Linked DNA regions of Homo sapiens: region 2 is linked to region 1. Evidence: fine-mapped expression QTL. A gene starts in region 1. The other region holds a variant in brackets. All regions are shown on one strand. Distances are between the middles of the regions. Region 1 holds the start of FLRT1 (fibronectin leucine rich transmembrane protein 1). Region 2 overlaps MACROD1 (mono-ADP ribosylhydrolase 1).

Evidence for each region. PIP is the estimated chance that this variant, and not a neighbour inherited with it, causes the effect.
Region 2: its variant is the best candidate, but not a certain one, in a credible set for the expression of FLRT1 in tibial nerve (GTEx, PIP 0.61).

Annotation. Positions count from the first base shown.
Region 1 is chr11:64,033,548-64,037,921 of GRCh38, forward strand. FLRT1 (fibronectin leucine rich transmembrane protein 1) reads left to right here and starts at 2,384. Exons shown (of 3, transcript NM_013280.5): 1 at 2,384-2,612. All of the region lies in intron 3 of MACROD1 (mono-ADP ribosylhydrolase 1), which reads right to left. RefSeq lists enhancers at 2,424-3,326, 3,327-4,228.
Region 2 is chr11:64,127,807-64,132,180 of GRCh38, forward strand. All of the region lies in intron 3 of MACROD1 (mono-ADP ribosylhydrolase 1), which reads right to left. Among named protein-coding and RNA genes, the nearest start is that of MACROD1, 36 kb to the right of the region's middle. RefSeq lists an enhancer at 1,671-2,264. The variant G/A (reference allele first, on the strand shown) is at 2,017.

The sequences.
Region 1 (4,374 bases):
AAATTATTTTTTGCCGGGTGTGGTGGCTCACGTCTGTAATCCCAGCACTTTGGGAGGCCGAGTTGGGTGGATCACCTGAGGTCAGGAGCTTGAGACCAGCCTGGCCAACATAGTGAAACCCCGTCTCTGCTAAAAATACAAAAATTAGCCAGGCGTAGTGGTGCATTCCTGTAGTTCCAGCTACTCGGGAGGCTGAGGCAGGAGAATTGCTTGAACCTGGGAGGCAGAGGTTGCCATGAGCTGAGATCGTGCCATTGCACTCCAGCCTGGGCGACAAGAGTGAAACGCCGCCCCCCCAAAAAAATTATTATTTTTATTTTTTTGTATTTTTTTTATCTCAAACTCCTGGTCTCAAGCAATCATCCCACCACAGCCCCCCAAAGCTCTGGGATTACAGGTGTGAGCCACCATGGCTGGCTCGAAGATAACATTTTGATATCTAAGTGTGACATGTCAAACAGAGCTACAATCATACAATCCATTCCACTGCGAGGCATTGAGTGCCCGCGCTCTGTGCCAGCTCTGTGGCTTGGTGTGGGGGTGGCAGGGATAGAAAGGGGTCTCTCCTTCAAGACATTTAGTTCAGAAGAGGAGGAAGGCTTGAACATAATTCCTGAGCCACACGCCAAGTGCTGGGATGGAGGAATGACAGAGCCCCAGGGCCACACGTCCATCTGGGGGTCTGGGAAGGCGGGACGGAAACCACAGCTCTGTAAAAATTACAGCCGTCTCTGCATGGACAAGCCTGGAAGGGAGCAGAGGAACGGAAGCTGTTGACGCCACAGGGCGGTGGCATTGTGGGTGATTTTTCTTTCTTTTATTGTTGGTATAATGCTGTTTGGGCAATAAATAAAAATTGGGAGGAAAAAATAGCTGTTTGGTGAATTGAGTAGAAATTGGGAGAAAGAAGAAAGGGAGTTAAGGGGAGGGAAATTAGAAGGGTGAAGTGAGGAGGGAGAGGCAGGAAGGGCAAAGACAGGCGCATGCAGAGCGCACAGAGGCCAGAGGCGGCGGCCTCAGGCTAGGCCCCAGTCTGTTCCCGGACTGGGCGCAAGAGGGCTGGGTTTGCACAGGGAAAGGAGGGGGAGAGGTGCTGGAGTCTCTGTAGGGGGGACCCTCCCCAAGGGGATCTGGGAGGGCATCCCAGAGGGGAGGTGGCCCCCAGGCCTCGATGGACAGCAAAGAGCAGGGCCGGCAGAGGGGGTCCCAGCCAGACTGTGGGCGGTCTGAGGGTGGATCAGGAGCACTGGGGCCCTGGTGGGGGCTCTGGGCAGGCTTGGGACTCAGAGCAGCCACTGACAAGGTGATGAGGTCTGACCAGGGCAGGCCAGGCTGGGTATATGGGAGAGTCCCTTACTTAGTGTCCCAGCGAATGCCAAGAGCACGGGGACTTTCAGGCTAAGAGGAGGCTGTCTGGTCTAAACACTCCCTCACCCCACCCGGATGCCACCCACAGGCATGAACATCTTCCCAGTCTCTAATAGGTGCCAGGCACTGGGCCAGCCACCCTCCCATTCAAGGTCTTCTTCATCTCTCACAGTAACCTTTGGAGCTAGGTAGTAACGGTCCCATTTCACAATCCAGGACACTGAGGCTGGGAGAGGTTCAGCAACTTGGCCAAGGTCACAGTCAGCTGGGGATGGGAGGGGGCGCTGGCATGGGACCCTGGCACTGCCCCCTTAATAGGTGGGAGGGGTATTGCTGGGGAGCGCCCGGGTGTTTACAGCACGCGGCGGATGAGAGGGTCTGCCCAGGGAAGGGGCGCCAGGCAGGAAGGAAGGGGTTACTTTGGCATGCAGAGTAGGCGGTGGGTACCTGTTTGTGAATGAATGCACGGGTGGACGGATGAATGAATGAATGAATGAATGGATGGCTGGAGGGATGGTTGAATGAGTGGGTGCGGAGAGGAGGGTGCTGGGGAGGCGGCGCGTGAGCTAGAACCCCTTTCTCCCCCGCCTCCACGGTGGAGGTTGGCTTTGGGAGCCTCCCTCCCCCAACTCCCCAGAGGGGTCGGCTCCCCCACCCGCCCTTCCCCCAGCCAGTTTAGCCGAGGGCGGGGGAGGGGGGCGCGGAGGCCGCTTCTCCCCGGCTGGGCCAGAATCCCCGCGCGGCGGCGCAGCCTCCCGCGCCGGGTCCCGCCGGCCAGTGCGCAGCGCGGCGCCCCCGTCCTCCTCCCCCTCCCCTCCTCCTCCTCTCCCTCCCCGCTCCGCGCCTGCACGCACGGCCCCCGCCGCCGCCGCCGCGAGGGGAGAGGCGGCCGCACAGCCTGGTTCCCCGCGCCCTGCTCGCCGCCGCCGCTCGCGCGGGCACCGCCGCTGGTCCCCGCCCCGCCGCCGAGCGCACCCGCCCGGGCACACGCACCCCGCCGCTGGACGCACCCCCCGCACTCCTCCCGCGGCTCCGCCGGGCGCCCGAGCCGGGCAGATGCGCCGCCGCGCGCCCCCCGCTCCGGGCCCGCCACCGTGCTCTGCCGCGCGCCGGGGGCTCCTCTCCCGGGCCCCCCTGGGCGCCCTCCGGCTCTGGTTCCCGCCCGCTCCTTGGAATAACCCCTGAGGCTCCAGCCGTCACCGCAAAGTTTCCCGAGGAGACCCGCCTCCCCGGCCGCTGCGCAGGTAGGGCTGGCTGCACCGGGCGGGGGTCGGGGTCCGCGCGTCTGGGACAGGGCGCCAGAGCCGACGGGGCGGGGGCCGGGGGCCCGGGGGCACCGAAGCGCCACGGGGTCAGGCAGCCTGGCTTTGCCCCAGAGCGGCGGGAGATGGGACGCCCAGCCTTTGGGATTTGGGGTGGGGGTCCCTGAGTCAAGAGCCAAGCACCAGTAGCGGTGGCGCTGGCCCCGCCGCGGGGAGGCGCGGGGTGCGCGGCCGGCGGCTCAGCTCTCCCGAGCCGAGGCTGGAAAGGGCGGGGGCTCAGCTGGAGCTCTAGTCCAAGCCCTCGCTGCACCCCCCAGGGAGGGGGCCTGGCCCGTGGGGGGCGTCAGGCCGGTCATGTGGGTCCCAGCTCCCGCACTCGGGAACCGGAGGAGGGCGCGCGGCCAGGGACAGCCGGCCGGCCTGGGCGCCGCGCTCCCGTCCCCACCAGCCGCGTGAGTCACGGTTGGAGCGAGGTTTTATTTTTAAAACGACTTCAAGGGGGGCATGAGCAGCCTCCAACTTCCCTCCCTGTGCGCGCTGTGGACCGTCAGCCCTGAGCCGGGCGGGGGCTGGGGCCGTACACCTGGCGGCTGGAACGGTGAGACCATGGTGCCTGGGCGGGGGGCGGCGGGCACCCCCCATCCCCCAGCTCTCAAGACAAGGAGGCGGCCCGACCCGGCGGCGCACGCCCCTCCTCGCGGGCACTGGAGACCCCGGGGAGGAAGGCTGGGGAGTGTTGTCGCCCAGCTGCAGGGAACCGTGGTTGATCAGAGCTCCCCGAGGAGGAGAAAGTTGTGGAACAGGGACACCAGGGAGCTGCCACAGCCTTCCCGGTGGCCCCGGGAGGTCTTCGAGGCCCTCCAGGGTGGGCAGTTTTGAGAGAATACAGCCCAGCTGGGGTGTGCCAGGCCCCCGAGGCCCAAGCCAGAGCTCTGATGTGAATAAATACAGCCAAGGCTGGGGACGGAGGTGAGGGGTGACTGAGAACAGCCCTGCCTCACCGCGGCCCCTACGCCCTCGGGTTGGATGGAAACCAGCCCCTCCACATCCCCCTCCCCAGGTGGCTCAGGAGTTAGGAAGGAGGCTGTCTGTGGGGGGGACCCACGATGCCACTGTGGAGGGAGGTGGCTGAGGCACCCTGTCTCTGCCCGGCGGCCGCGGGGGAGGCAGCCGCCGCGCTCAGGGGCTCCAGATTCCAGTTTCTGGAGTTGAAAGCTACTGCATCTCTTCCGCCAGCCCCGGGAGGAGAGGCGCAGACATCACCTGTCAGCTGGTGCTGACTCCGTGGGCGACTGTTCAGGGCTTCCTCAGAAGGTTTAAAATGGAAATGGCCTGAGCTGACAGGGCCCGTGCCTGGGAGGGGACGCTGCCTAGCTGGGCCAGCAGTGAGGGGGCCCTGGTAGGTGTGAGGGGCAGGAAGAGCTGAGGGCTGTCACATATCTGGCTGAAGGGTCGGCCATGGGCACAGGGTGTGTGTGTGTGTGCGCACCCAGTCCCATGTTCTTTCCCAGACACAGAGACTGGATACTCTTCAGTAAAAAGCACCCTGACCCCAGCATGGAGGCTCCGTAGCCCACACCCCCAAGGCAGCTGTGGCCTGCTGGACTTCACCTAGACCTGGGTCTGTGCATCCGCACTCTACCATTTATTGGTCCCTCCACCTCCCTGTGCCTCAGTTTCCCTTGTTGGTAAAATGGGATTGATAGTGCCACCTCCTGAGCCTGAGCCAGGGTGCTGCTTTGTA
Region 2 (4,374 bases), 94 kb after region 1:
ACCACCCCAGACGCCCCCCATCCCCTAGATGTACCCATTACACTCACAGCTCTGGAGCCTCATCTGCCTCTCTCACATCCCAAAGGGAGGGGGACAGGAAGGAACAAAATTTCCATGAGAACAATAGCAGTCTCTGCTAAATTTAACATAAAACAAGAACTCATTACTTCTGCCTGAGATCTGATTTCATGTCTGGATACAGTTAACGGGTTTTTCCTTATATTCCAAAGAAGCAAAGTTAATTCTCAGTGGCCGGTGGCCCTGAGTGGGGTGACGTGGGCCCCACAGGTGCTCTCTGCCCCACCCTCCTCCTCCATCCTCACCTCCTGTCCTGCCAGGGCAGGAGCAGCCCAAGAGAGACCACTCTAAGGTGTGGCACACAGTGTGACCACCCAGGAAAGGACCCAGGCTGTTCTTCCAACTTCTCCCTGAGACCCAGCGCACAGTGGGTGCCCAGGAGGGGTGCCCACTCCCTCACCTGAGACCCATTCTCTGGGGCTGTCGAGGGCTCTTTCTGGAACACAGTCAGCCAGCCAGCCAGCCAGGAGATATTGACTGAGGGCCTGCTATGCTCTGGGGCTGGTGTATTCCTGCCTCATGGAGGAGTGAGGAATCTACGTGGCTGAGTCAGGGCCTAGCCTGGGTGGGGCTGGGGAGGCTCTGTGGGGAACCAGATTTCCACAGAGGACGCTTCCACGGATAAGGAGGACTAGGAGGCAATGGGGAAGGCCTGGCACGCCGCCCGCCTGAGGTAGACAGGAGGGCAGGTCCACTTCTGCGCCCCACTCAGGAAGGCCCTGTGTCCCCCCATCTCCCCGTTGCCCCCCTCAGACTCCAGCCTCAGTGCAGCCCCACCCTCTGCCCTCCACGCCTGACACCCCCCAGGCCCAGTGTGGCTTAGACTTCAGGTCTATGCTGCACTGGTTTCCCACGCCTCTGCTGGCCTTTCTCACCTGCACAGGTGACCCCTTCCCACGCCTCGCTTGGCTGAGCCCAGACTGGCAGCTCTTGCCCTCCACACCTCCAGATCCCCAGAGGGCACTTGTCTGGCACCAGGAGGCCCCGTAAACAGGAATGAAGAGTGAGTCGATAAACAGTAAATCAATCAGCCAATCACTCCATGGATCCATGTGAGTACAAGGAGGATGATTCTCCAAGCACAACAGCCCTTGCCAACCCCAGTGAACCCACCCTTCCCCAGGAAGTCCTGCTCCCGGCTTTACCTCACCCTCCCCACGTGTGGCAGCGCCACAAATCTGGGGACACCTGTGGAGCCCTCGAAGCTAGGGAAGAAGGGCTGTGTTCTCAAACTGTGTTCCTCAGCCCCTGGAGCTAACACAGGTGTTGCCCAGAAAGGGTTCCCGGTCACAGGCCTTTGGGAACCACTGGATTAACACCACTGCTCTCCTGGGGCAGGGCCTTGGAGTCCCTGGGTATTGGGTTAGACCCATGGGCTCCGCCAGTTACCACATGTGCTACTCATCCTCTCTGTGCCTCAGTTTCCACCTCCATGCGTACATGATAACAGCTCCATCCCCGACTGCTGTTGGGAGGGTGAGGTGGGACGACACAGGTAATGCCACTGGGAGTGCCCAGCTCAGAAACCACCCGCACCAACCCTACGGCTGTGACGGAGCCTCTGTGAGAGGGCGTGGGAGGCCGGGTTGCCTACAGTTTGTCTGGGGAGTGTAGGCCTCCCCCACCCCCAGCACAGCCTCCTGGGGGGTTTCTCCCGCATTCCTGGCCCCCAGGGATGGAGCCAGGTGCTGAGCTGGTTGGCACTTCTTGCAGGGAGGCCCAGGTTCTTGGCAGGACCTTTGGACCCAGGCAGCAAAGTGCCCCCAGGTCCAGCACAGAGAGGCAACCGTACAGGGTGGGGCCTGTTCCCCAAACCACCCCCACAACAATCCCAGGTCCACGGCCTGCTGAAGAGGATGACAGGCTGGCTGCAGCCTTAGGCTTCAGGATTGGGGGTGGGTGTGGGGGACATCTCAGGTTTTAATACGCGCCCCAGGG[G/A]AGTTGGAGGCTCAGCCAGGTTTGGGCCGCACAGGAGGGAATTGCCAGGACCTGCATTTCAGGAATGAAAGGAAAACCCTCCAAACATAACCTGTTCTGAAGAGGACCGGGTGGTTGGGGGGCCGTGAGCCTCCCGTTCTTACAGGAAAGCAAGCAGGACTGGCCAGTGCCTCAAAGGCACTGCAGGGGACCTGCTGGCCCCAAAGAGCCCTGACACCATGTCTTCAGCTGGATGCCAGGAGATGGGGTGGTCCCCCGAGAAACCTACCCCACACCACTGCTGCAGCCCCCCACCGTGCCACCCTCCAGCCAAGCCACTTTGGGCCCTTTCCTTCCCCACAAATCTCTCAGGACTTGCATTATCACTGAGATTAGGGGCACGTGTGGGTAAGACCCCCGAATGGCTGCCCTGCGGCCAAGAGGCACCTTAAGTCCCGGGGCTCCGGCTTTGTGTATCTGACTCCGTCTGTTTTGTCAGACTCAGGACTAAAAAGCTCCTGCTCAAATGAGAGAGAGAGAGTGGGTGATACCTACCCCTCCATGGCTGCTTTCCTGTACCTGGAAACTGCCCTTACCTGGCTACCACTGGGTTCTGGAAGCTTCCCTTCTCCTGCCCCTACTTCCCAGGAGGGGTCTCTGGCCTCACCGAGCAACCTGAAGAAGAGGCGTCGGAACCTGGGAGGGGTCTAACACCCCAGGCCACACCCCCACACCCAAGTTCTGTGGCTGAGTCTTATCACCCAGCCTAGGAGGGTCCCGGACGCATGGGAGGGCACCCAGCTGGCCCTGAAATTCTGCCTCCGTGGGTCTGACATTGGCTCATCCACTTTCAGGCACCCCAAATAAGGCATGCTTCCAGGACCCCCCCACACATGCCGCTGCCTCCCCGCCGCCGCACCCACGTCACCTTCCAGTGCTGACACTGCCACCTCCCCACCCGCCACCCTGTCCAGCACCTCCAGAGGACCTTCTCCTCCTGCGGCAAAGTAAACAGGCTCTCTGGAGTGCTAACTGACAGCACAAATGAAATCCTGCACTCCCTCCCTCTAAGATTTACAGGGGAAGTGAAATCTTATTTGCAATGCTGCCAAGCCTGGGACGAGATGAAATTATGCCTCAAGAAGAGAACTGGCCGGCCCGGCGAGGAAGCACTGCATCGGAGATGGGCTTATTAAAACCACAGTGGCCACATTTCAACCTGTTTCAGGTGTTAAGTAATTTACTGCCACCCAGAATTCAGTGGCAGGTTTTTATCATTTTTATTCTTGTGATGCAGGCGAGTGCCCCAGGAGGTCCCTGTGCAGGGAGCTGCGGGTCTAAATGCTCCCTGTCACCCCCGCCCCAGGCACTGCAGAGGGAAATGGGGGCCAGCTGCCTGAAGCGGGTGAGGACACCCTGACTCTCTCCAGGGTTACACCCAGCTTGGCCATAGCTCAGAGTGACGGGGAGGGCAGGCTTTAAGACCCTCACCCCACCCACGTGTGGGGGCTCCATGATCCCTCAAAGACCCTCGGGACGTTTTCTTTTTTTTGATGGAGTCTCGCTCTGTCACCCAGGCTGGTGTACAGTGAGGTGATCTCGGCAGCTTCCGCCTCCCAGGTTCAAGCGATTCTCCTGCCTCAGCCTCCCAAGTAGCTGCGTGTACAGGCGTGTGCTACCACGCCCAGCTAATTTTTGTATTTTTACTAGAGATGGGGTTTCTCCATGTTGGCCAGGCTGGTCTTGAACTCCCAACTTCAATGATCCACCCGCATCGGCCTCCCAAAGTGCTGGGATTACAGGAGTGAGCCACCGCGCCCAGCCCCTCAGGATGTTTTCTGAAGGCAGCAGGAATGTAAGCTCTCTGGGAGCAGAGACTACCCTGTTTCAGGCTGTGACTACCAACCAAGCCTTTATTGAGCACCTACTGCATGCCAGGCCCTGTTCAGATGGGGAACATGCAGCAAATGGGACCGAGAGCCCCCTGCCCTGTGGAGCTCACGTGCTGCCTGCCGGTAAGTGTTGAGTAAATATTTGTGGTTGGTTGATGAAAATCTCCTACAGGCAAACAGGCCCTTGAAAGAAAAGAAGCTGAGGAGGGGGGCAGGGGGAACCGGAGGGAAGTGAGTGGCGGGAGGGAGGGGCGCACTTGACTGAGCATCTGCTACATGCCAGTCATCACAGTGACTGCTGGCAGCCCTGGAAGTGGGGCCTCCCCATGCCGGAGCTGCTGGGGCCAGGTCTCTGCACCTTCCCCTGCTCTGGAGAACTATGCAGAAATGGCTGATACTCCGTCTGAACTCATGAGGAACACAGTCTCCTATTCATGGGGAGCTGGGGACAAGGGGACCTACAGTCTGGGATGTGGTTAGGAACAGC